3 separate regions of the Homo sapiens genome follow, and all the other regions are linked to region 3. Evidence: fine-mapped expression QTL. A gene starts in region 3. Each other region holds a variant in brackets. All regions are shown on one strand. Distances are from middle to middle.

The links. PIP is the estimated chance that this variant, and not a neighbour inherited with it, causes the effect.
Region 1: its variant is fine-mapped to the expression of JAKMIP1 in whole blood (TOPMed, PIP above 0.99).
Region 2: its variant is fine-mapped to the expression of JAKMIP1 in whole blood (TOPMed, PIP above 0.99).

What each region holds. Positions count from the first base shown.
Region 1 is chr4:6,149,830-6,157,971 of GRCh38, forward strand. The region is part of intron 1 of JAKMIP1 (janus kinase and microtubule interacting protein 1); the gene reads right to left. Among named protein-coding and RNA genes, the nearest start is that of JAKMIP1, 47 kb to the right of the region's middle. RefSeq lists an enhancer at 3,410-3,579. The variant T/C (reference allele first, on the strand shown) is at 3,330.
Region 2 is chr4:6,103,224-6,111,399 of GRCh38, forward strand. JAKMIP1 (janus kinase and microtubule interacting protein 1) reads right to left here. Exons shown (of 21, transcript NM_001099433.2): 3 at 2,250-2,744. Among named protein-coding and RNA genes, the nearest start is that of C4orf50, 89 kb to the left of the region's middle. RefSeq lists an enhancer at 2,465-2,997. The variant A/T (reference allele first, on the strand shown) is at 4,018.
Region 3 is chr4:6,197,104-6,205,279 of GRCh38, forward strand. It overlaps JAKMIP1 (janus kinase and microtubule interacting protein 1), which reads right to left and starts at 3,446. Exons shown (of 21, transcript NM_001099433.2): 1 at 3,150-3,446. JAKMIP1-DT (JAKMIP1 divergent transcript) reads left to right here and starts at 3,630. Exons shown (of 4, transcript NR_037863.1): 1 at 3,630-3,836. RefSeq lists enhancers at 1,252-1,411, 1,532-1,581, 1,602-1,711, 1,922-2,011, 4,964-5,013 and silencers at 2,482-2,831, 3,102-3,861.

The DNA.
Region 1 (8,142 bases), 47 kb before region 3:
ACTGCATCAGGCTGATGGTCAAGATCCTAGAAGGCTGCCCCAGTGACCTCTCCCTTCCAACTCCCAGCTCTCCCCACCCATGGCCCACCCTCCAGCTGGGCTTCTCCTCCTGCCTCTGCTCTGCACCTTCCACTGCCCCTGCTTACCAGGAACGTCACCCGCCAATTCCAAATCTCCCCTTGCCTAAATCTCACATCCTCCAAGGTCAATTACACACTCATTCTTCCAAGAAACACGCCTACAAGTTTGTGGAGCGCCTGCCATATGCCAAGCTCTGGGGAAGAAAGTGAATGATACAGGTAGTGCCCCCTTCGGCTACTTCCCCACAGCACAGAACATTCTCCTCCATCAGAGAGAGAGAGAGAGAGAAGAAAGTGCTGGCACAGGCCCCATGCTTTGGGCTTATGTATATTAGCTCAGTAATCTTCATAATTCTTTGAAGGAGGTGCCAGCTTCCCTCCCACCCAACCTCCCAGTACAGAGAAGGAGAAACACCTCAGAGAAAGCAAGCAGACTGCGGAGACCAGGGGCTGAGGTTGGCCCCCGGTGTCAGCTTCTAACTAAAAGCCTTACTGTGCAGCGGGCTTCTCAAGGACAGTGTCCACGGTTCATCCACCTCTACGTCCCCAGGGCCCTGTCCGGGGCCTGACACAGCAGGTACACAGCCCTGTTTGCTGAACTGAGTGGTTTCCGCATCCAGGAATAGACACCCGCTTCTTAATCCCTGCCTCGGAGGCAGCTCCCACGGCGCTCAACGGACTCCTGACCTTCATGAACAGACCACGGGGCCGGCAGCACCTGCATCAGCGTCTGTCTGGCTTCCTCTTCAAAACCCAACAGACTCCATCTGGGCCCCAGAAAACTGCCCTGATGCTACAGGTAGGAAGAAAAATCTTTTAAAAGCACGTTAAAAGGCAGGCCTCTAAAATCAGCTTCCTAGACCATGGCGGGAAGAAGAAAACAGGCAAGAAATTTCCGCATCCCAGCTTCAAGCTCCTCCACTTGAGCAAGACAGTAATAATGTCTGCCACCGGAAGACACCCAGTGCAACACCTGAAGCAGTCAGCGTTGAGTGTGCCCAGGTGACACACATTTACAACCCCACCAGTGGGTCCCTGTCATCCACCAAAAGCAAAACACCTGGTGAAGGCTGCTGGGGATGGCAGCTCTTTCTCCCCAAGCTTTGGCTTCTATGTGACCTTGTGCAGCGCCCCCGCCATACCTTCCCCAGTCTCCCACTGTCTCCAGGCTGTGGCCCAAGTACTCTGGTCTGGCATTCAAGCTCCTGAGCTTGTCTCCTGCTGCCCTCCCAACTGTGACACGGCCATAGCACCCTACATGCCAAAAATGAAAACAATGGCCACCATGTCTATGTTCCATACAGGACCTCATTTAATCCTCTCCACAACCCTATGAAGTTACTTCTGTAATTATTCCCACTTTCCCTACGGAAAAACTAAGGCTTAAGAAGTGTCTGCAACTTTCTCAAGATCTCAAGCCCAGCAATAGCAGGGCCAAGATGAAAGATGAGATCAGACTCCCATGTTCTTCCTCACTGCACCACAAAATACTGCCTCCAAATCCCCAAATGCTCAGCGCCCTCTCTGAGGTGCCTCCATGCCTCTGCCCAAGCTGTTCTCTCTGCCCAGAAGGCCCTCTGCTTGCTTACCCACCATTCTCACCACCCCAGACCTGGCCAACTCTAGCCTCAATGTCACCTCCCCTAAGTCTTCCTAGAGCTTCCCATGCCCCACCTAGTTGCACTCACAGCACTGTGACCTTCACAGCCGCATTTAAGCTCAGAGTCCTCCAGTCCTCCTGGCTGGAACCACCTGTTCTCCTGTCTGCTGTTCAAGTTCTTTGAAACTTAGAGTTGAAGGTGGATCTCAATAGCCATTGAAGCTGGACGGCAAAGTGGCTAAGGGTATGGAGTGAGACCTTAGGCCAGTGAGTCCTTCCACTTGTCTAGATCTGTTTCTTTACCTGTAAAATGAGATTATCCAATAACCATACCAAACTCATAGTGTTGTTATGAGAATTAAACAAGACAATATAAGTAAAAGCAGTGAGCACAGTGCCAGGTACATGACATTGACCTTCCCTGAACATTAGCTGCTGTTGTTATGATGACTTTTACTTGGTAACCACTACGGGGCTCGCCACTATGCCTGATACACTGTTACCACTTAATAAAGGTCTCAGGGTTGGAAAGGAGAAAGGAAGCAGGCGAAGGAGGAAGGAAGGGAGGGAAGAAGAAAGAGACAGGGGAAGGAAGAAGGGAGAGAGGAAGGAAGAGAGGGAGGGTGGGAAAAGAGGAGACAGAGAGAGAGTGAGAGAGAGCAGGGAGGGAGGAAGTCAAATCAACTCGGAATAAAACTATCTAACCAGCAAACGCTGCTCTAAATGGGAGTAAAAAGGTGAAATTTCTTCCACTTGAGGCCATGACCTCCCACTGGGACTCTGATCAAGAGTCCTCACTCACTCATCCAAGCCTTCCTTTCTTCCTCTTTGGTGGAGGCTGCATTACCTAAGCCTGTAGCCCCAGCTCCTAGAACCGCCCTCACCCAGCCCCACCACCAACTGGCTGGGGAGCTGCCTGCTGCTCTGCATCCTATGATCAGAGATAAGGCCTGGCATTGGAAGAGTTTGTGTCCGCACGAATAAAAGGCAGGCAGTCTCTAAGAGAAAACCCGACCTCTGATCCTGATGCCGGGGAATATTTATGTGACCCTTTAACCCCTATATTTAAACACTAGTTCTTTGATCCCAATACTCAACACTTCACTCTTGCAGCAGATCTTTGCAATATTCTCACAGAAGTGGGCATCCTGGCCGAGTGTGGTGCCTCATGCCTGTAATCCCAGCACTTTGGGAGGCTGAGGTGGTTGGATCACCTGAGGTCAGGAGTTCGAGACCAGCCTGGCCAACATGGCGAAACTCTGTCTCTACTAAAAATACAAATATATATATATATATATATACATATATATATATAGCTGGGCATGGTGGTGGGCTCCTATAGTGCCAGGTACTCAGGAGGCTGAGGCAGGAGAATCACTTGAACCCAGGAGGCGGAGGTTGCAGTGAGCCAAGATCACGCCATTGCACTTCACCCTGGGCAACAAGAGTGAGACTCCGTCTCAAAAAAACAAAAAGAAGTGGGCATCCCTTAGCCCCAATTCTAGGAAACCCACATCACCTTCCTGTTAACCTGAGCTCAGTCTGTTTTTCTGTGACCAGCCCCACCCATGCACATCCCCCTCCCCTACCTGCCTGAAGACTACACAGGCAGATTCACACTTGCCAGCCAAGGCTTCAAAATCAAGCTC[T/C]ACCAGACTCTCCTGGCATCCAGCTCACCAGAGGCCAACACCTGCTCACCATTCGACAGCACCCTGATTCCTACTCAGAGGCCCCAACGTCCCTGCCTCTCAGCCTCAGCTCCAGGGGTCTTCCCCGAGCCTGGCCTCCTTCACACAGGCCTTGGTCACAGGCAGATCTGGGTGAGAAGAGGAGCCACGCTGAGCATCAGGAGCCCTGGGATTTGAAGCCCCTTCTTCTCTCCACAGCCTTGTGACCCTGGCCCTCTCTAGGCTTCAATTTCATGTTTTGAAAAATGAGCACTGGAGCCAACGGTGTTTCCCAAACCTCAGTCATCAGTTGCCGCCGCTGTGACTTCTGCATAAAATGCATGGTTCTTCTTTTCTTAAAATTAGCTTTCCGGAGGTGTAATTTGCGCTGTAAGAGGGTGCACCTCAGACAGCCCTGACAATCTGGAGAGAGAACGTTTTGTGGAAGGCCATCATGTTCCCGTGTGCCCCTCGGCACCTTACCTTTATGTGCTTAGTACTTTTCTTTAACACTACTGACTTTTGAAAAACCTGTACACTACTTCAGCCTTATTCTAAGCAAAAATATCCCCCAAATCATAGGCTTCAGGTGCTATATTTTATAACTATAAGATACAGTTATATTTTCCCTAATGCACACTAAAGTATTATTAAAATAAATTATGTTTGGCTACTGTCACCTAAAATCTCACATCGCAACACTGGTGAGCACTCTCACTGAGAAATGCGGAACCAGCTACCCGCTCCCTGAGGCCCCTTTTGGCTGGGAAAGTCTGGATCCTGCCTCTTACTTGTCACAGAGTCTGCCCAGGTCTTGTATGCGGCAGATGTTTACTAAATACTGGCTGCTGAACCAGAGTGAGAGTTCAAGGCCATCTCTGCAGCCCCCAGACCATGCCTGGCTGACTGCATCCTGCTGCCTATGGTGAGAAGGCACAGGCTTGTGTCCTGCAGAGCTGATAAACCCTGCACTCAGGGAGACACTGACCCTCGCAGGAGGGAAGACAGAGCGGAGCTGGACACAGGCGGAGGCTGAAGAAACAAGCAAATCACTGGACGTGCAGAGAGGCTGCACTGGGGAGAGTTGCTCCTATTTTAGGCCATTGAACTACTTTAATAATTCGGTCATTTTCACATCAAAACCATTGCAAGGAAAACCCCCTAGGATGTTAAATCTGCATGCCCAGAAAGGATTTACCACAAAGAGCGTGAAGAGAGTGGTCCCCTTCCAAGTCCCCATTTCACAACAAGCTAAAAACCGAACAGAAGCCTTTAGTTCCCTGAGTGATTGGACAAGGAATTTGTCAGATGTCTATAGTCCTTTAAAAAAAAAAAAAAGCAGGGGGGATATAAAAGGAAGAGGATGCATTTCAGCCTTGAAAAAGGCAATACCGAAAAGGCAGACACCAAGAAACTTAGCAAGGCTTCCAAGAGCCCAACACGCACAGCCCACTGCACGCAGGGACTGTGCCCAACTCTGCAGCCCTGGCAAATGGAATTCTTTTCAATCCGGCCCGCTGAACCCCTCTTTCAGTTTACTTACTACCCAGCCCACTCCTAACTCCCCACCCCCAGCCATCATGAACTACAGACAGCACCCTAAACATCCTGTTCTGCCTTTGTATCCAGTGGACAGTCCTTCCTTCCTCCTCCACTTGGGAAGCTCCTATTCATTCCTCGAAGGCCTATTCATCCATCGCCTCCCACAGGAAGCCCCCTGAGACCCTCTCACTCCACAAACCAACACAGAGCACGCAGGGAAAGGTGCGGGGTAGGGTGGGGGGTCTTAGCTGGGGTGGAGCCTGAGCCTCAGAGGCTTCCTTCCTTGTCCTGTGGATAAAGGAATTTAAAGCTCATTCCCGAGCAGTGGGAAGACAGTCGGGAGATGCCAGCCCAGCCTGCTGGGAAGATACTTCTGGTGACAGTGTTGGGGTGTGCTGAAATTGGATCTGTGACAATGCAGTTGACTCTCCGCTATCAAAAGGCCTACACATGAATGCCTGGCTGGAGCTTCCCTCCGCAGTGACCCTGGTGTGCCCACGAGGAGGACGAATGCTCCTCCTAAGGAGGAAACAACATTCCCTCCTCTGCGCTCAACGCCTTTTAATACCAGCAACCACCACTCAACCACCACCACCGCGAATGTTTACCCAGCCCTTATCCTGCGTCAGCTCTGCTCCAAGCACTTTATATTTAACCCTCAAGAGAACCCTAAAACATAGGTATTCTAGAGATTTAAAAAGTATGGAAAGGCTAAAACACTTGTCCAAAAGTGCACAGCTACTAAGCGGGACTCAAATCCAGACAGTTTGGTTCCAGGGTGGGTTATGGTGGTTGGAAAAATGACAGCAAACTCCTAACTGGCTCTGAAAACTTCTAAACGCCCAGCGCTGCTACCTGATTTCCCCTAAAGAACTCACGGAGGATTTACGCGCATATTCAGCTGCAGGGACATGCACGGATGTGCTGTTTACAACAAGGAAAATAAGCAGCCAACTAAATATTTGCTAAATATTCACCAACAACTGTATGTCCCATGGCACATTTATAGAACGGGATATTATAGTGTCCTTTAAGCTGAAGCTCTATCATCTCAAATTTTGCTCTGAAGGCCTGTGTATCCTGATTCCCAAGTGTGCTTGCTAACATGCAGCCTTCCTGGGTCCTGCCCTAGACCTCATGAATGGCACTCTCTAGAGGTGGGGCCTGGCAATCTTAAGTTTGCACATACATTTTTCTGTGCGGTAATGTGTGAGAACCGCTGCTGGGGATGAATATCTACTGCCACGGAAAGGGTCAGCTCTGTGACTTCTGTCCGTGGTGGGTTCCTCAGTGCGTAGAACAGTGCCCAGCACAATAATGGATCTTCAAGAAATATTTGGTGATCCAGAAAACCCATCCATCAACAAACTATTCTGAAATAATCTGTTGGCATTTCTAAATACCTGACCCATCTGTGTGTTTCTTGGGAGCAGAGACCGGGAACATCTTCTCACCGTACCACGCCCGGCACAGAGCCAGCCAGCCACGCGCAAAGCCAGCCCTCGGAAGTGGCCCGCCAACACAGGAACAAGCGAATGCCACTGTATCACACTGATCCTAAGTTAACGTTTCTGAAATCAAGATTCATCTCACATTCAATGCCCCATCATCATTTAATGAATAGCACTTTTTCCCATTTCTTTAGTGGTACAAAAATAATGATGCATGTCCCAATTGACAGCAGCTTAGATTTAATAAAATACGGTACCTAACAGAGTCCAGAATTCTGATTTAAAAGTTTAAATTAGCTGCCAACACAGCTAACAGATTGTTGTGCATTTCCTTTCTTATAATTTGCAGAAATAAATCCAGAGCCATCTGTTCTGAGCGTTCGGCTTCAGCCCCCAGTCATCCTGGTGACCCAGGGCTTAGCTACTGAGATGCAACTCAAAGATCTGATGCATGTGGAAGGCTTTCATCTGTCTTCACCCAGGAAATGTCTGACAGCATCCGCTGAGATGTGGGAGCTAAAATATCTCCTTCATTGAAGGCTGTAGGATGTACAAGAAAGGTCAGTTCTGGGCTAGACCTTGGTTACATCCCAGCTCCACTGTCCCCAGATGTCTGGTCTTGGGAATCTCATGGCCACACCTGGCACATGGACATGGTCTGCCCATGATAGGTGTTGGTCACGTTACAATTGTTCAGTAGACCCACACCCCATTGGCCAACAGCCACAGCCCTGAATTTTCTATAACAAGTTCCATGGCTAGTGGTTTGAATGCGTCCCTCAAAGTTCACTGTTAATCCCCAATGCACCAGTGTAAAGAGGGGGGACCTTTAAGGGGTGATTGGGTCATGAGGGCTCTAACCTCATGAATGGATTAATGCCATTATTGCCGGAGTGGATTCCTGATAAAAAGCTGAGTTCAGCCCCCTTCTCAGCTCTCTCTCTGGAACTCTCTTGCCCTGCTGCCTTCTGCCATGAGATGTGGCAAGAAGGCCCTTGCCAGATGCAGGTCCCTCCACCATGGACTTCCCAGCCTCCAGAACTGTAAGAAACGCATTTATTTTCTTTATAAACTACCCAGGTGGTGATATTGTGTTATAGCAACACAAAATGGACTAAGACGAGTGCACCTGGGCAGGTTACTCCCTCTGCAAAAAGGCGCACGGGATGGGAAGCTGGCGCACAACACAGGGTTGTCCCAAGAACCAAATGAGATTAAATTGAAAGCTCTCTGAAAAGCAGCAATTTCTATGGTAATTCAGGTAATTTGTGATATTTAGGAAGCTACAAATTATAGATATAAGAATCTTCAAATTTTCAAATCAAACTTCAGCGTACACTTTCCGTAACACCTTTTTTGACTAAGAATCCATCATTTTCCTAACTTTTTCATAAGCCACTGGCACAGACCATCACAACTCAGAACCGGGATCTCCGAGCTACAATCCCACCAGAATCCCAGCTCAGCCATCTTCCCCAGCGTAGCCCTGGACATGCTACCTAACCCCTGCTTTCTCCTGTTTAAACTGGTGCCAGTTGTCTGTGGTTTCACATTCACTGAGCAGGTTAGATATGCCTCTCCGTAAACACCAGCCATGAAGCAGCACACCCAGTAGGGTGTGAGTGAGGGACCGTAGAGTCGAGAATTCTGATGAAAAAACTTAAATTAGATGCCAACACAGCTAACAGATTGTTGTCTATTTCCTTTCCTTGGGCTCTGTTAGAACCAAGGGTGTCTTGCTTTGCATCAGCAGCACTAACTCCTGATGCAACAGCTTTCTTTCTATGGATCACTTCATTCTC
Region 2 (8,176 bases), 94 kb before region 3:
TGAATTTTACCAACAGATTTTTCTGCATCTATTAAGATGACTGACCACGTTTTTCTTTTTTATCATATTATTATGTTGAATTATATTCAGTGATTTTAGAATATGAAGCCAATCTTTATATTTTCAGAATAAACCCAGCTGGGTTATGACTTATTAGCCTTCCTATGTATTGCTGGATTTGATATGTTAATATCTTGCTCGTACTCTTGTATCTATGTTCATAAAAGGTAATCCAAAAGTTTTCTTATCCTGTAATGTTATTGCTTTTGGAATCAGAGTTACACTGGCTTCATAAGTTAGTTAAAATGTGTTCCTAATTCTCTATTTTCTGGAAGACTTTGGCTAGAATTAGTTTTACTTCTTTCTTAAACACTTGAAAGAATTTACTTGTGAAGCCATCTAGGCCTGGGCCTTTCTTCATAGGAAAATTATTCATTACAGATTTAATTTATTTAGGAGCTTTAGGACTACTTAGATTTTCTATTTGTTTCATGTCAGTTTTGGTACATTGTGCTTATTCAAGGAATATGTTCATTTTATCGAGGTTTCAAGTTTATTGGTATATGCTGTTTGCTGTGGTTTTATTGACTGTAGGAGCTGTGGTATTTCCCCCTTTACATTTTTGATATTAGTAATTTATTGTCTCTGTTTTGCTTTATCAATATTGCTAAATGTTTGTCAATTTATCAGTTTTAATTAACTCTTGAATTTGTTGATTTTCTTTATTGATTTTATTTCACTGCTTCTTGCTCTTTAAAATTTCCTTCCTTCTACTCTCTGGAGTTTAATTTGCTGTTCTTTTTCTTTCTTCTTGAGATAGAAGTTTAGATGCTTGATTTTCAGCATTTCTTCTTTTTGTCTAAAATATGTTTTGCTCTAAGGACTAATTACAACCCACAAATTTTGAAATGCGGTCTACAATGATAAAAGTATGTCATGTCCACAGTATTCTGCAGTTGTGGAATAGAGTGCTCTGTCAGGTAAGTTCACGTTGGTTAATTGTGTTGGTGAAATCATGTCTTTATTCATTCTTTGTCTGTGTGTTCTACTGTTTGCTGAGAGAAGCGTGTTCGTCCCCAACCGTAACTGTGGATTTGTCTGCTTCTCCTTTTAGTGTTGATAATTTTTTTCTTTTATACATTTTGAGGTTTTGTTATTGAATGCATTCCCACTGAATTGACCCTTTATTATTAAGAACTGTCCTTTTGTGTCTTTAGTATTACTTCTTGCCTTAGAGCCTTTGACATTAATACAGCCAGACCAGCTTTGCTTTTAGGAAGTGCTTGCACAGTGTATCTTTCCCCATCCTCTTATGCTCCATGTCACCATGTCCTCATAATTAAGATGTCTCTCTTGTAAATATCACTGTTACTCTTTGATCCAGTCTGAAAATCTCAGCTTACTTTACTTCTTAGCCTCCTGCCCCACACAGCTTCAAAGTGTGACAAACGCCCTGAGGGGCAGACTGGTCATGTGTTTGTGGCGGGCCCCCTCCCTTTGTCTCCTACGTCCAGTGAGGGCATGGGAGCTGTCATTCTGCCTTTCCAGCTGGGCTCGCCAGCCTCCCCCTTCACTCCAGGACTCAGGAGGATCTCCTGTGCAGCAAGCTGGCCTAGGTGGGGCTCCTCTGGTTTCCATTGTTTCATGCCCACTCTGAGATGGCAGAAAAGTCCTACTCATCTCTCTGAGGACATCCAATCCTCAGCCCGCACCCAGAATCCACAAATGCCCCAAGGGAAGAAAGCAGCTGGCAATTAGGCCGCCCAGGCAGGGCTCTTTCCCCTTCCCTTTGGAATTTTAGTTCATCCACACTCCACAGCTTCCACAGATCTCCAGTATCTTTCAAAACAGGACTATTTGCAATTTATATGTTTCCCTTGCTGTTGCAGCCAGTTGGCCGGCCTGCCCTGACCTGTGGCATCTTACCTGGAGATGGAAGTCTGCTCATGGTTGTTGAAGTAAATGAATCAATAAATGCCCGACACTTAGATACGCTATCACGAGGCATTTGCAACAACCCTCGCTAGTCTCCATTAAGCTCCTTTGACAAATGGGGAACTGTTCTTTGAGCGGATTACCTGCAGCCCCAAAGCCTCCTTACCACACCTAAGACGGGAGGGAGGTTGCTGGGGCCCCAGTGCTTTGAACAATGCCTGGAGCACAGCAGGTCCTCGGAGCTCCGCATTTCCCCCATGCGTGCAGGGAGGGAAGGCCGCGTGCCCGCGGGCGGGGGAGGGGGCGGCACGTACCAGCCTGCGGATGTCGCGCTCGCACTCGCGCTTGATGCGGTGCACCTCGTCTTGGTGCGCCTGGTAGGCGGCACGCAGGTCGGCTGCCTTGGTCTTGTCAGCCTGCATGCAGTTACTGAGCGCCTCCTCTGCCTGCTTGCGCGCTGCCTTGAGCTCCAGGATCTCCTGCTGCAGCCGCAGGCGCTCTCCATCGAAGGCCCTGCGCGCCTCCTCGCGCGCCTCGGTCAGCAGCGCCGTCTTGACCTTGTCGGCCGCGCCGTCGCGCAGCACGTTCAGCGTGGCCTGCAGCCGCTGCAGCTCGCCCTCCTTGATCTTGGCGGTGCGCGCCGCCTCCTGCTCGTGCTGCCGGATGAGCCCCTCGCGCAGCGCCTGCAGCTCCTTGGTCTTCTCCTCATGCAGCTTGGCCTTGAGCTCCGAAATGTAGGCCGTGTGCCGTCGCTGCTCCTGCTCGCGCTCCAGCTTCGCCTCCTGCAGCCGCTCGCGCAGTTTGCCCACCTGCAGCCAGAGCGGCGAGAGAGCCGGTCAGGGTCAGGGTCAGGGTCAGGGTCAGGGTCAGGGTCACAGCTGGGGGAGCTGGCCACAGCCTCCCCACGCCCAAGACACCCACCTGGGCCCACGTTCCCATGGATTCCCCCTTCGGCAGTGCCCTGCAGGCCTGACCCTCCTGCCAGCCCCACTTAGAATCTCTCCTGCTAGTTCCCTGAGACTTTCCCTGGGGGTGGAAACCCCCTGAGGATGCTGGAGAGGCATTCAAGCCTTTGACATCTCTTCCAGGTTGTAAATTGAGACGACTGCTCAATCACAAAACACACCCTGCAGAAATCATCACCAAGACCCAAAAGATTGTAAACCAGAAATATATTTCCAGGGCCCCATGCGCGGACTGTGGAGTTGGAAAAGACAGACCAGGCTTCTAAGTCCTGGGGGGCAGTGAGCAGGGGGCACCATTCTTGTTGAGTGGGGTCCCTAGCTGGGCTGGGGGCTCCAATGCATCACCCACATTGCCACATGAACCCCTCACGGTCTTGGGAAGGAAGTAGCGTGCTCCCTCTCTTTCTCCCTCTCTCCTCTCTCTCTCTCTCTCTTCCTCTCTCTCTCCTCTGTTTTATCATGAGGCAGCCAAAGATCAGAGACAGTCTGGTGAGCTGCCCAGGGTGAGGGATGAGGACCCTGTGCTACCAGGCAACCCACCCCGCCTTGAGCCTATTCATTTTATCAGCAAACAATTCAAAACATTACTTATAAAACGTCCCAAGGGAGTGTGTTCTTAAAACACTTCAAAATGCTTTCTTTAACCTTTTTGTTTCAAATATCACTCAACACACATTCCACAGGAACGCCTGACAAGCCCTTATTTCCTGAATTCTGCCCGTCTCTGAAGACCTGAAATGAATTGCCTCTGGTGGACAAGCTGCTTCCAGGGAAAATGGCAATGTTTTTCCCCAGACCACACTGTTGATAGCATAGTCACATGTTAAAATTAATTTTAGGTGAGAAGTTTTACAATGGCACCTGAGTATTGATAAATCCTTACTTAAAACAGCAGGTAAAAAAGCAAATAAAACCAACCCAGGCAAACACACAAGATCAACATCTCCTTTCACCAGATACTCACAATCATAGGAATGAAGCCAGGCGACCAGTCCATGTTCTGTCCACCTTACCCTGGGGGCAGCAATCAGCATCTTTTCCTAGTGGATTTAGCAGCAGGAAGCCAGAACTTTAAGTATTTAACAGAATTGTCCCAGTTATGGACAAAATGGTTTTG[A/T]CTGTTCTCCCTCCTGCGAGGCAACAGTCAAGTCCCTGGTTAATGCCGACAGCCATCTGGGGCCAGCAGGGTCAGATCCAATGAGATCCTAATCTGCTTTGATGAGCTGCGTTTCCCCAGGCAAATTTCTCTGCCTCTATGGTGGCTGATGTTGTGGGTCGACTTGGCTGGGCCACAATGCCCAGTCGTTTGGTCAAACACCAGTCCAGATGTGGCTGTGAAGGTACATTTTATAAGAGATTAACATTTACATCAGTAGACTCTGGGTGAAGCACGGTGCCTTCCACAATGTAGGTGGGCCTCATCCAATCAGTCGAAGGCTTTAAGAGAAGACCGAGGTCCCCTGCGGAAGAAGGAACTCTGCCTCCCGGCTGCACTGGGACTCGAAGCTGCAAGATCAACCCTTGCCTGAATCTCCAGCCTGCTGGTCTGCCCTACACATTTCAGATTTGCCAGCCCCACAACCGCATAAGCCGATTCCTTAAAACTAACGAATAACCTCTCACTCTGTGGGGGGTGTGTGTGTGTGTGTCACAACCTATTGGTTCTGTTTCTTTGAAGAACCCTGACTACACAACCTTCCAGAGCTCCAGTTTCCTCTACTAGGAAACAGGGATGGCAACAGCTGCCCCTCAAAGGCCCGTTGAGAGGAGGAAGATGAGGTGACTGTGGGTGGGTGAATGGAAGTCTGTTGTTATCGTGGTTCTGACTTTCTGCATCAGGGGTGGGCAGCCTCGTGTGAGAGACACAGGTAGAAAGGGGGTGAGGAACATGGAAGGGTGGGCAGAGGCCTGTGCAGGGCAGCCCGGGGCGTCTAGGGGCTGCTTCCTGGGAGGGGCAGAGGTGCTGCTGAGGCTGGTGATCCAGGTGTGTAGGGCAGGGATGGTGACAGAGAGGCAGGGGCCTGGGGACAGGGCCCTGCTGGGTCCCTCCAGCTCTGCCCAAAGCTGCTGAGAGCCAAGCCCAGGTGACATGACCTATGCCACAGAAGCAGCAGAGTGAGGCTGGGGTGACCTCTGATGGGCACAGAGCACTCCCTCCCACCACCACTCCATCCAGCTGAGCAGGCCAAAAAAAGCCGCCCAGCACTTTACCTCCAGGTGCCTCCAAGCTACCCCAAGTGTAGAGGCACCTACACCAGCCGCTCCTCAGCACTTGGACTCTAAATGCAGCCACGGCACAAAGGCCAAGAGAGGGAGCATGCCCTGGGGGTGTGGGGGCTGGCGTGGAGAAATTATCTGAACCACCAGCACCACCCTCACTTGCCACTCCCACTCAGAGAGTGAGTCAGATTCACCCCTTTCCATCCTCATCCTCATCCAATCCAGCAGCACTGGCTCTCCATGTCCAGGCCTGGCCACTTCCCCACTTCCCCCTTGCCCAAGCCACCTGCAGCAGCCCTCCCCGCCACACCCTCCATGCTCAAAGCCCTCTAAATCTCATGGGTACCAGTTCACTACTCTGAAACCATCATACATGTATAGTGTTGAACAAAGAAAGTGGATGGCAGAGGGGGAAGCCAGGTTTCCCACTTGGAGTAAGAGGTTACAGACAAGCAAGAGGAGGCTGAAGGGAGCCATGCGGCAGTGGATGCGTCTTGGGACATCTGTAAGAACTCATGTTTGACTTTGTATGGATATAGATGTCATATATGGAAATATTTACAGGTATGCGTACATACGCAGGTCAGTATACACATATATATTCCTTGTTCTGGCAGCTGAGAGGGCCTAGAAACAATGACACCGCAGCAGTGATGGGCACGCCTGGTGCCTGGATCTTTGTTTCTAATGCCATTCTCCAATAAAAGGAACCAGGACCCCTTAGAGAAACTGCTGGGTCTAGCGCTGGGGTAGGAAATATACAAGATGTGCCTGGGGCACCTTTTTTTTTTTTTTTTTTTTTTTTTTGAGTCGGAGTCTCGCTCTGTCCCCCAGGCTGGAGTGCAGTGGCACGATCTTGGCTCACTGCAGGCTCTGCCTTCCAGGTTCACGCCATTCTCCTGCCTCAGCTTCCAGAGTAGCTGGGACTACAGGCACCCGCCACTGCGCCCGGCTAATTTTTTTATATTTTTAGTAGAGACAGAGTTTCACTGTGTTAGCCAGGATGGTCTCGATCTCCTGACCTCATTATCCGCCCGCCTTGGCCTCCCAAAGTGCTGAGATTACAGGCATGAGCCACTGCGGAGCCTGGGGCATCTTATAATGCCAGAAAGTAAGGAAATGCTCCACAAAACCCCCACAAAACTGCCCCTGTGAAGCCTTGGGTTCTGCTTGTCCCTGCACTATTTTCTAAAACCTCTGATGGAATGTGCCCAGGGCTGCTGTATTGCTGGTTTCCTGTGAGGCTCTGTACCCATGCGACTTGAGGACAGGGTCTGTCTCTGAGTTACTTCCAAACACTTCTCACTCAGCCCAGGCATGGAGCATGCATGCCAGGGGTTTGCAGATGAATAGACAGACACGTTTACCACCCTCCTTCATCCTACAGTGTTCAACAGGGATGCTTTGCTAAAATGCCAGCACTTTAAATGGGACATTGACAGTGATTGTGAGATCATATCAAAGTAACACTTCAATGCAATTGTAAAGTTTGCATTTATGTTTTTTGTACCAGTCAATAAGCACATTACTGAATTCTCAGAGAATTGAAATTCTCCCAGCAGCCAGATGGGTAAAGTCAACCTGAAGCGGCCACATGGATGGCTGGATTGAGAAAATAATCAGCCAGCGTGCATCCAAGTGGAAATTGCCACACGTCCCAGAGGCAGGGAGGCAGCCTGGTAACAGGGAGGCCCAGCCTGGGGTCCGCATGGGCCTGGCTTTCAATCCTGCAATACCACCTACTGTGCTGGCCTCGTGTGTGGGGCTAAACTGTGTCCCCCTGAAAATCATATGTTGAAGTCCTAACCCCCATGACCTCAGGATGTGATTCCATTTGGAGATAGATCCTAATGAGGTCATTAGGGTGGGCCCTAATCCGATTTGCCTGGTGTCTTTGTAAGAACAGAAAATACAGACATGGACAAACACAGAGGAGAAAGCCATGTGAAGACACAGGGAGAAGGCGGCCGTCTGCAAGCCAAGGAGAGAGGCTTCAGAAGGAGCCAATCCTGACACCTGGATCTGTGGCTGCCAGCCTCCAGGACTGTGAGACAGCAATCGTCTGTTGCGTAAGCCGCCCTATCTGTGGGACTTGGTTACTGCAGCCCTGGCAAGCTAACACACCTGGGCAAGTCCCCGCCCTCTCCAGCCCTTGGCTTGCTCACCTGTAACACGGGGGAAGCCACACCTGATCTCTCAGGTCACTGCCAGGGTCATGACACCCTCTAAAGCACCTGGTGCTATCTGCACAGTAGGCATGTAAAGGTCACCCTGATGGTCATGTGAGCGTATGACAGGCAGCACCCAGGCCCTGTGTGTGACTGTCTCATTCATTCCTCAAACAACCCAGGAGGCAGACACCTTAGAGGTCCCCATCTACAGATGGGAAAACTGAGGCAGGGGGTTACACAGCTTATAAGACCTCAGGCAGGGGTGGTGGTGGAGAGGGGATTTGAGCCCAGGCAGTGTGATATGAGTGAGCAGCTTTCCCTGTCACCACAGCTGCTGTAGCTATGTCCAGATACAAGCTGCCAGCCCTTACACCCCCAGCCAGTCAGCCCCAGCCCCAGCCCCGGAGGTGACCTGGCCTGTTGACCTGGCTAAAGGGTGAACAGGTCAGCATCACCAGCATCCATGTCTAAAAGAGGCTGGATGCACTCGGCCTGGAATCTTGAACACCTAGGGATGGAGACAGGTGCATCTGTCCCCAAGTTCCAGAAGCCCAGTCCCCTGGTCCAGAACTCAGCCTCTGCTCTGTGTGGCCATCCTGAGCTGGGGTTGCAGCCAGATCCCAGGCCCCAGCCCCGTCCCCACCTGGAAGCTGGATCTGGCCCAGCACTCCATTGGCGACCTGAGTCCCAGCTCAACAAGACAGGGACGCCTGCTGCAATTCCCCAAGCAGCCTCCACCCGTCACTCCAGGTACTACAGCAGGAGCCAGAGGGCACCTTCGGGGCTTCAGATAGACCTTCAACTGCTCGAGCCACCCAGGAGCAAGCCTGCATCTCCATGCTCTTTCTGTGCTCAGCCTGGCTGGCAGCTCCTCTCTGGGCTCAC
Region 3 (8,176 bases):
AAGCGGGAGGTTAAGTGCTGATATTTCCTTACGTGGCCCTCATTCCCCTTATCCAGACAAAAGAAGTGAGTACAGGGGCTAAGCGACTTGCCCAACGTCACACTGTCAGTAGGGTGGGAGCTGGTCCTCAACACAGTTCCACTGACCTAGCCTGGTCCCTCATACCTCTCAGCCCACCACAATGGTGGCCACTGCTCTGATCATTAGTTTCATCGTTAGCTAAAGAAGGACCCCAAATGTGGGCGTGGGAGTTTGCTCTGTGACAAGGCTAAATGAATAAATATTCTCATAGCTTCTTCACCATCATCACCCCTCATAAATCGGCTACCTTTGCTCAGAGACCACACCTCTGATCCCCACACCAACCTAGCCAAAGAGATGCCACTGCCCCCTTTTATACAGGAAATGGAGGCTCAGAGAGGTTAATCTTCTTACCCAAGATCACACAATGACAAGGGATAAACTACAGGCAAGTCCAACTTCAGAAGCCCTGCAGGTTGATCCCGTCGCCACTATGGGGAGAGGAGTGACCCAGCAGAACTGGGACACACTGCAGTCATCCTCAGACTCCCCAAGGGAAGCCCCCATTTAGTTAGAAAGCCCAGCAGGGAGGCACTTGCCCAGTCACAGCTAAGTGAGGCAGGGCCTGAATGGGAACCCTGGCAGTCTGGCTCAGAGCCTGAAGAGACACAAGGTCCCACCCTCGAGGAGTTAAACAGATAGCCATAGCCTGCAGTGGCAATTGCTGCTGGCTTAAGCATTAGAAATTGTTCCCTCTGCCACTTGTCCCACAGCCCAATCCACCCTTACACACCAAGAGAGTGGGGCCACGGTCCTGCCACTTCCTCGTGCAGCCTTCCTGGCCGGGCCGCCTGTCCCCATCTCTCCCTGCACATGACTCTCTGACAGCACGGGCAGTGTCTGTGTGGTCACCTCCCCAGGAAAACAGAGCCCCCACCAAAGTGGGACCATCTCTCAGGCCACCTCACTGTGTCCCGTGTCCCCAGTCTCTAGTGGGCAAGATCTGCTTAAGGAAAAACTACACAAACAAATATCACACTGTATGTGTATAAAAAGTTCTGAGAACACAAATGAGAGAAGCACACAATCTTTCCGGCAGAGTCTGGGAAAATCACACTGATGGAACCTGAGAGCTGGGCTTAATCATGAATCGTTCTCCACATACTCAAGGGAGGGGAGCATTGTTTTAGACGGGGGGAAAAAGAAGCATGTGGGGGAAAAACCCAAGTGTGAAGACATGTCTACGCAACACAGAGGCAGCAGGCGTGGCTGAGACATTGTGGCAGGGAGAGGGGAGAGATGGGCTGGGGAAGCCAGGATGTGAGGAACTGGTGAGGTCGTGGGGGCGGTGGGAGTCATGGGTGGTTTGTGAAGGAGGAAAATGCCAGTCATCTCATGCATTGGGTCCACACTGTGAGCCTTTGGGAGCTGCTTACTGCAAAAAGACTACAGATAAGAATTACCCCAGACTCCAGAGCAGAGATGTTCAGCATTACAGACCGGTACACACCTCAACAGCAACAAAAATCTTGCAACAAGCCACAAGCCTCCACTGTGCGCTACAACATCAGTCTCTGCAGAGCTGCAGGTCTCCAGGAGGGTGGAAATGCCCTGCTAGGAAAGGATTCTAATTCCCCCACTCTATCCCCGAATGTGTCCCTCCTCCTTGCCCATCCCAGCTAGTGGAGCCACCACCCACCAGCCCAGGGTGCTACAGGAAGGGCCAGCTCCTCCCATGGCCTCGCCCTCCACACCAGCGGGTTACTCTGACTTAGGGGGGATGGCCCTGCTATGCCCAACATTCACTGTGGGTGGAGCCCTGGGAGAGGGGCTGAGGCTGCCCCTGCCCTCCTCCCCACCTCCTCCTCTGCTCTGGAAGGCAGAGGCCATCAGATGGTAACAGCATCCTGGGACAGCGCCACGTTCCAGGAAAGCTCAGGAGGGGCAAGGGGATCTCCCTGACTACAAGGAGCTGGCCAGCTGAAGTTAGGGCGTTCGCGGAGAGAGCACAGCACTGGCAAAGGCCAAGGACAGTGTGCCTGCGAGTGTGCGCAGATGGGGCGGGCGGCGGAGGAGGGCTGGCGGTTAGATACAGTATCGCTGGAGCTCAGAGAGCCGGGCAGAGGCTGGCGGAGAGCCGAGGCTGGCCCAGCCTTCAGGAGACCGGCGAGCTGGGGTGTGTGGGAGCGGGATGCTTCTAAGGCGAAAAGAAGCGCCAGCCTCGTAAGCGGCCTCTATCTGGGCTGCCCAGGCCGGATGCTCAGGAGCCCACAGCAGGGGGGATGGAGCGAAGGACCGAGGGGCTGGGAGGCGAGGCCGCAGCGCACTGACGCAGGCCAGCGAGGCCGCTGGCCCCGACGCAGGGCGCCCGGCAAGGTGTCTGGCACCACGAGAGTCAATCCTTGCGCGCCATCTCCGGAGGCCAGTGCGCCCAGGGCGCGCCGGCCCGGCAGGAGGGTGGGTGCCAGCCTTTCTTCCCATCTCTCGAGCCTCCTCCCCGGCGCCCACGTGGGCGGAGCAGCGCGAGGGTGTGCGTGGCAGGGGCCGCGGCGGCGTGTGCCGTGCGTGGGGTGGGGTGCGGGCTGGGCGGCCTCGCCTTCGGGCCCCGCGCCGCCGGGGCGCGGCCCCCAGCTCCATCTTCTTTGCCACCTGGGCGGAGATCTGGGGGACTGTGACCTACCCTGCGGAAGACACGGAGGGGACGGGCCGGCCACACCCCCCGCGCCACTCCGGCAGGCACCGGGTGGGTCCCCCTCCCGCTCCTTGGCTTGAGGGCGGAATCCGGAGAAGAGTGGAAATAGGGGTGGCGTGAAGGAGAGCTGGGGGCTGGGGGCGGGACCGGGAGGGGGTGTTGGGGGAAGCGACGCAGCGGCTGGGAGATTTTGCAAGGGGGTCTGAAGAGGAGTGGGGGATGGGTATGGAAGGGTGGGGGACCACTGAGGTGGGATGCGAGAGTGGAAGGGGGACCCAGAGGGGGCGCGATGGCCGGAGGAGGGGGAGATGGACGATGGGGCGGGGCGGCACCGGTCGCCGCGTCCCTTGCCGCCAGGTCCGCCCCTCGGTCGCCGGGTCCACGGGTTCCCTCTGGCCAGCGCTCGCCTCCCGCCCCCCGGCGCACCTGTACCCACCTGCTCGGCGCTCAGGCCCGAGCCGGGCAGCAGCAGCGGACGTAGCGAGCGCAGCCCCGCGCCGCATCCTCCGGCCGCCCCCTCCCCGCTGCGAGCTTACGCCGCTGTCGCCGCCGCCACCGCCTTAAAAAGGACAAAACGGAACAGAAAATGAATGCATGCACAAAAAAAATCGTAAAAAGCAATTGAGGAGGATGGCAGTCGCGCGCGCGGCTCGGCGGGGCGGGAGTCGAGAGGCCGCGGCACTGGTGGCCGCGATCCGGGCAGGCGGCCGGCGCGTGCCGCACGCGGGTGGCTGCAGCTCCCTCGGTCGCCCGCGCCCGGCTCAGGCACGGCACCGCCCCTCCCCCCGGGGAGCCCCTCCGATTGGTCTGTCTTCCTGCCAGTCAGGCAGGAGGGCGCGGCGCCCGCCCCGCCCCGCCCCCGCCCCCGCCCCGGGCAGATGCCGGGAGCTCTCCTGCCGCCGTGGGAGGGGGAGCTGAGCTGCCGGAGCGTGCGCACTGGGCCAGCGGGCGGCCGGGGCAGGGCTGGGGTCCCGGCGCTGAGCGCCCCCAGCCGCGCCGGGCAGCCTGGCGCCTCGCTGAGTCGGAGCAACCCCCGGCAGGAGCTTTCAGGCTCTGGTCAAGCCTCGGGACCCGGGAAGCTATCCCTGCCCTCGGGGGCTCGAGCCTGGAGTGGGGCTTGCAGGTAAAGCGGGGCTGGGGCCGTCCTGGCCGTCAGTGGTCAGGAAGACGCAGCGACCCCGGAGATCCATGTCCCCCTCTGTACGCATGAGAGGTCTGAAGGTCAGAGGTTAAAGCGCACGCTAACGGCGGCAGAGCCAGCAAGCGGCAGAGCTGGGCGGATGCCAGCCTAGGGAGCCTCCCCCCACCAGCCCAGGCTGCCCCCAGCAAAGCCACATCAGCAGGTCATAGCCAAATGAAAGATGTGCTGTCGAGCTGAGACTTGGGAGGGGCAGGACTCAGCTGGGCAAACATTCATTCAGTGTCATTAGACAAATATTTATTGAGCACTTGCTGTGTGCCAGGTAGTCACTAAGATGTGGGGACACCACAGTGAACAGCAGAGAGGAAGCGGCTGCCCACCAGAGCTTACTTTCTAGCAAGGAGAAGGCAGGGAAGAGCACCCACCAAAGGGAGCAGCATGGGGGAACACCCTGACTGCTGTGAACGGGACATATTTGAGAATCTGATAAAAGTATCTGGGCCACAGAATGGTGAGAGGGAGTGTGTGGAAGATGGGGGGCGGGGGCACAGAGGGGCAGCACTTGCAAGGTCTTGCAGGCTGGCGAGAGTTTGGAGACTGTCTCACCTGGAAGGTGGTCCCATGGACCATTGTCAGATTGATATTTTTTAAAGTGCATCAGTCAGGATAAGCTATGTTAGCCACAGTAACAACCAAACCCAAATCTCCCTGGTGTGTCTTGCCCACATCATACATCCTGCCTCGGTCAATGGGGCTCTGTTCATCAGAGTGGTTGGGAGCCCAAGCTGCTGGGGCTGTCTGCCAGCCGAGCACCCACATGGTGCAGCAATGTGAATGAAAGGTGACAATTATGCTGGCTTTGAAGGCTTCCTCCCCGAAGGGACTCTCGTCACTTCTGCTCACGTTTCATTGGCCAGAGCAGGTCACATGGCCATGCCTAACTTCAGAAGAGGAGGAAGTGCAGACCTCTAAGGTTCAGGGGGTCAGGAGGAACTAGGATATCTGTGAGCAGATGTGAGACTATCTTTAGCAGATGCCCTGGCTGCCCTTGGGGCATGGGCTGAAGTAGTCAAGAGTGGGGACAAGGAGGCAGTGTGGGGGCCTCCTCCACGCTGATACAGTGAAGTATCAGCGCATCAGAGCAATCTGGGTGCAGAATTGGCAGGACATGCTCACGGCTTGGACGTGGACAGGAGGGAGGGAGGGACAATCAGGGACAATGCCCAGGTATCCTGGGATGAATTGTGTTCCCCCCACCCACCCCCTCAAAAAAAAAAACTCGTATGTTGAAGTGCTCACTCCCAGGACCTCAGAATATGACCTTACTTGGAAATAGGGTCGTTGTAGATGTAATTAGCTAAGATGAGGTCACAATGGAGTAGGTTGGATTCCTAATCCAGTCTGCCTTCTATCCTTATAAAAGGGGGAAATTGGATACAGAGACACAAGCAACGGGAGCATGCCGTGTGAACATGAAGGTAGAGATCAGGTCGAGGCATCAGCTAGCCAAGGAAATGCCAAAGATGGGAGCAAACCCCCGGAAGCCATGAGAGCGGCCTGGGACAGATCCTTCCCCAGGGCTTCATAGGGAGCGTGGACCAGCTGACACCTGATTTCAGACTTCTAGCTTACAGAAGTGAGACAGTGCATTTCTGTTGTTTAAAAAGCCCAGCTGGTGGTACTTCGATACATGTGTGTAGATTAAGGGTTATGTCTGGCTGTGAGTAATCGGGATCACAACTAGACAGCGGCTTAAACAGATTTTTATTCTCTCTTAACAAGAAATGCAAAGGCAAGCTGTTCCTCACTTTATCCTCTCTCACTCCTTCACCCTCAGGATGTAATTTTCTTTTTCAAAATGTCTTCTACGTGGCAAGTTGGCTGCCTCTTCCCAGACATCTCATCACTATTCCAGTCAAGAAGGGGAAGAACAAAAGGCATACCCACACTAGGTCAGCTCCACTTCACCGCTTTCCTGAAAACTCTCCCCAGAGAGCTCTGTTTTATCTCATTGGCTGGGACGGTGTCTCATGGCCAGCCCTGGCTTCAGAGGAGGCTGGGAGTATTGTTATTATTTTTTAAGATGGTGTCTTGCTCTGTTGTCCAGTTTGGAGTGCAATGGCGTGATCTTGGCTCATTGCAACCTCCGCCTCCCGGGTTCAAGTGATTCTCCTGCCTCAGCCTCTCAAGTAGCTGGGATTACAGGCCCACACCACCACACCCAGCTAATTTTTGTATTTTTAGTAGAGATGGAGTTTTGCCATGTTGGCCAAGCTGGTCTCAAACTGCAGACCTCAGGTGATCCACCCACCTTGGCCTCCCAAAATGCTGGAATTACAGGTGTGAGCCACCACGCCCGGCCAAGGATGTTTTTTTTTAATTGAAGGTACATTGCTGCCTGAAACAAAGTCAGGGTTCCATTAGTGAGGAAAAGAAGAAGAATGACTTTTGAACAGGCAACTATTGGTTAGTAGATCCAGGTTTTGTAAAACCTGGAGCCGCTACAGTCCCCCTTAGGAAGAAGAATTTAAAAACCCCAGTACAAGACTTGGTACAAAAATGAAAACTTATTTAGAATAATAACAAATCACAACAAATTTTAAAATATTTTAAGTTGACAAATATCAAAAACGTTGCGAAAACATTATAAAACTAATATAAAATTGTATTAATTGGATACCTGATATCCACCTTTATAATATCTTCTTTTTTTTACATTTTTTGCTTCTTCGTCATTTTTGATTACCTCTTTGGAAGCCAATGATTTTATAATATTTTTCCTGTGGAGAAAATAGATAATTCAGAGTACTCCTATAATGATGGGAACAAATTTTAATGTTGGTTGGAAAACTTTGTCAGCCTCATAACTCATTATTGGTAATCTCAGGTAGTTTTTTGAGATTGTTTTCAAATTTGGAGAAAGGTCTATCATTCTTTCATAAATGAATGCTAACACTTGGAAGAATTCTATTTCTTCCAGGCTTCTTACTGGGATTTTATTAATTTTCATGATGAAAAGCAACTGAACAATTGCAAACCAGAACATGACTCGACTAACACCTCCTAAACCTCAGTGCTGGCGCCCATCACCTGGAGAGGCATAGGAGAAATGCAGATGCCCAGGCTCCTCCACATCCCACTGAATTGAAGCCTCAGAGTAGCAGGGTCTAGGAATCAGCATTTTACTAAATGCCCCAGGTGACTCCTGCTGAGCAGTCCTGGGCTATGCGACACCCCCAGTTGCCTTGTGACTCTGAGGGTCTGCAAATCCAGACCTCTCCTATTGGAAGAATGACATTTTCAACCCTTATGTCTCTTCCTCTGCCCATAGACTCCTGGTGCCAGGCACCATAGCACACATTGCCAGTGCCATGGCAAGGAGGGCACTCCTGGGAGCCATTAGCCTGTTCAGGGAGCAACAACTCGACCCACACAGACTGGCTCAGACCTACATAAACACACCCCACTAAACCCAAACCAAGGCATCCCCAACTCAATCCCCCTTCAGCTACATCCCCAAAATGCCCTTGGCCTCCGCAGCAGCTCCGAAGTGGGAGGAAGCATGATGAGGGCGGCATAGGGAAAGAGACAGAGGGTATTATGGGTTGGATTGTGTCCTCCAGAACTTGAGTGCTGAAGCCCTAACCCCCAGGAGCTCAGAATGTGACTGTATTTGGTGATAGGACCTTTAAAGAGGTCACTGAGCTTAAATGAGGTCTTTAGGGTGGGACCTAATGCAATATGCCTGGTGTCCTTATAAGAAGAGATTAAGACACAGAAGGAAGCCCCTGTGGAGACACAGTGAGAAGATGGCCATCTGCAAGCCAAGGAGAGGGGACTTGGAGGAAACCAACACCTTGGTCTCAGACTTGAAGCCTCCTGAACTGTGAAAAATAAGTTTCTGTTGTTAAAGCTCTTCAGTCTGTGGAACCCTGTCTTGGAAACCCTGGCAGCCAGCTTAGCCAGTTACAGCTAAAATATCTTGCTTTTGGAAAGTATTTCCAAACACAAGGCCACATGAACCCAGAGCTCTGGCTCTCCCAGGCCTTGGAAGGGTCTGTACTTAGCTTCACAAGGAATTCACCCCCGCTGCCACCACGTGGTCACTACATAACCCTCAGGACGACCTATGGGGCAGGGGGTCAGGTACCACCAAGATCTCCCTATTAGGGACGAGAGGTTGGGGCCCAGGGGCTCACTCACAGCAAGCAGCATGGAAGCCACGAGTCTTCCGAAGCCAAAGCTGCTTTCCCCGCCCCGTGTGCCCTGAGCCCACAAGTGGTAGGGAGGAAGTGCCCTGAGCCCTGGAAGTGGTAGAGAGG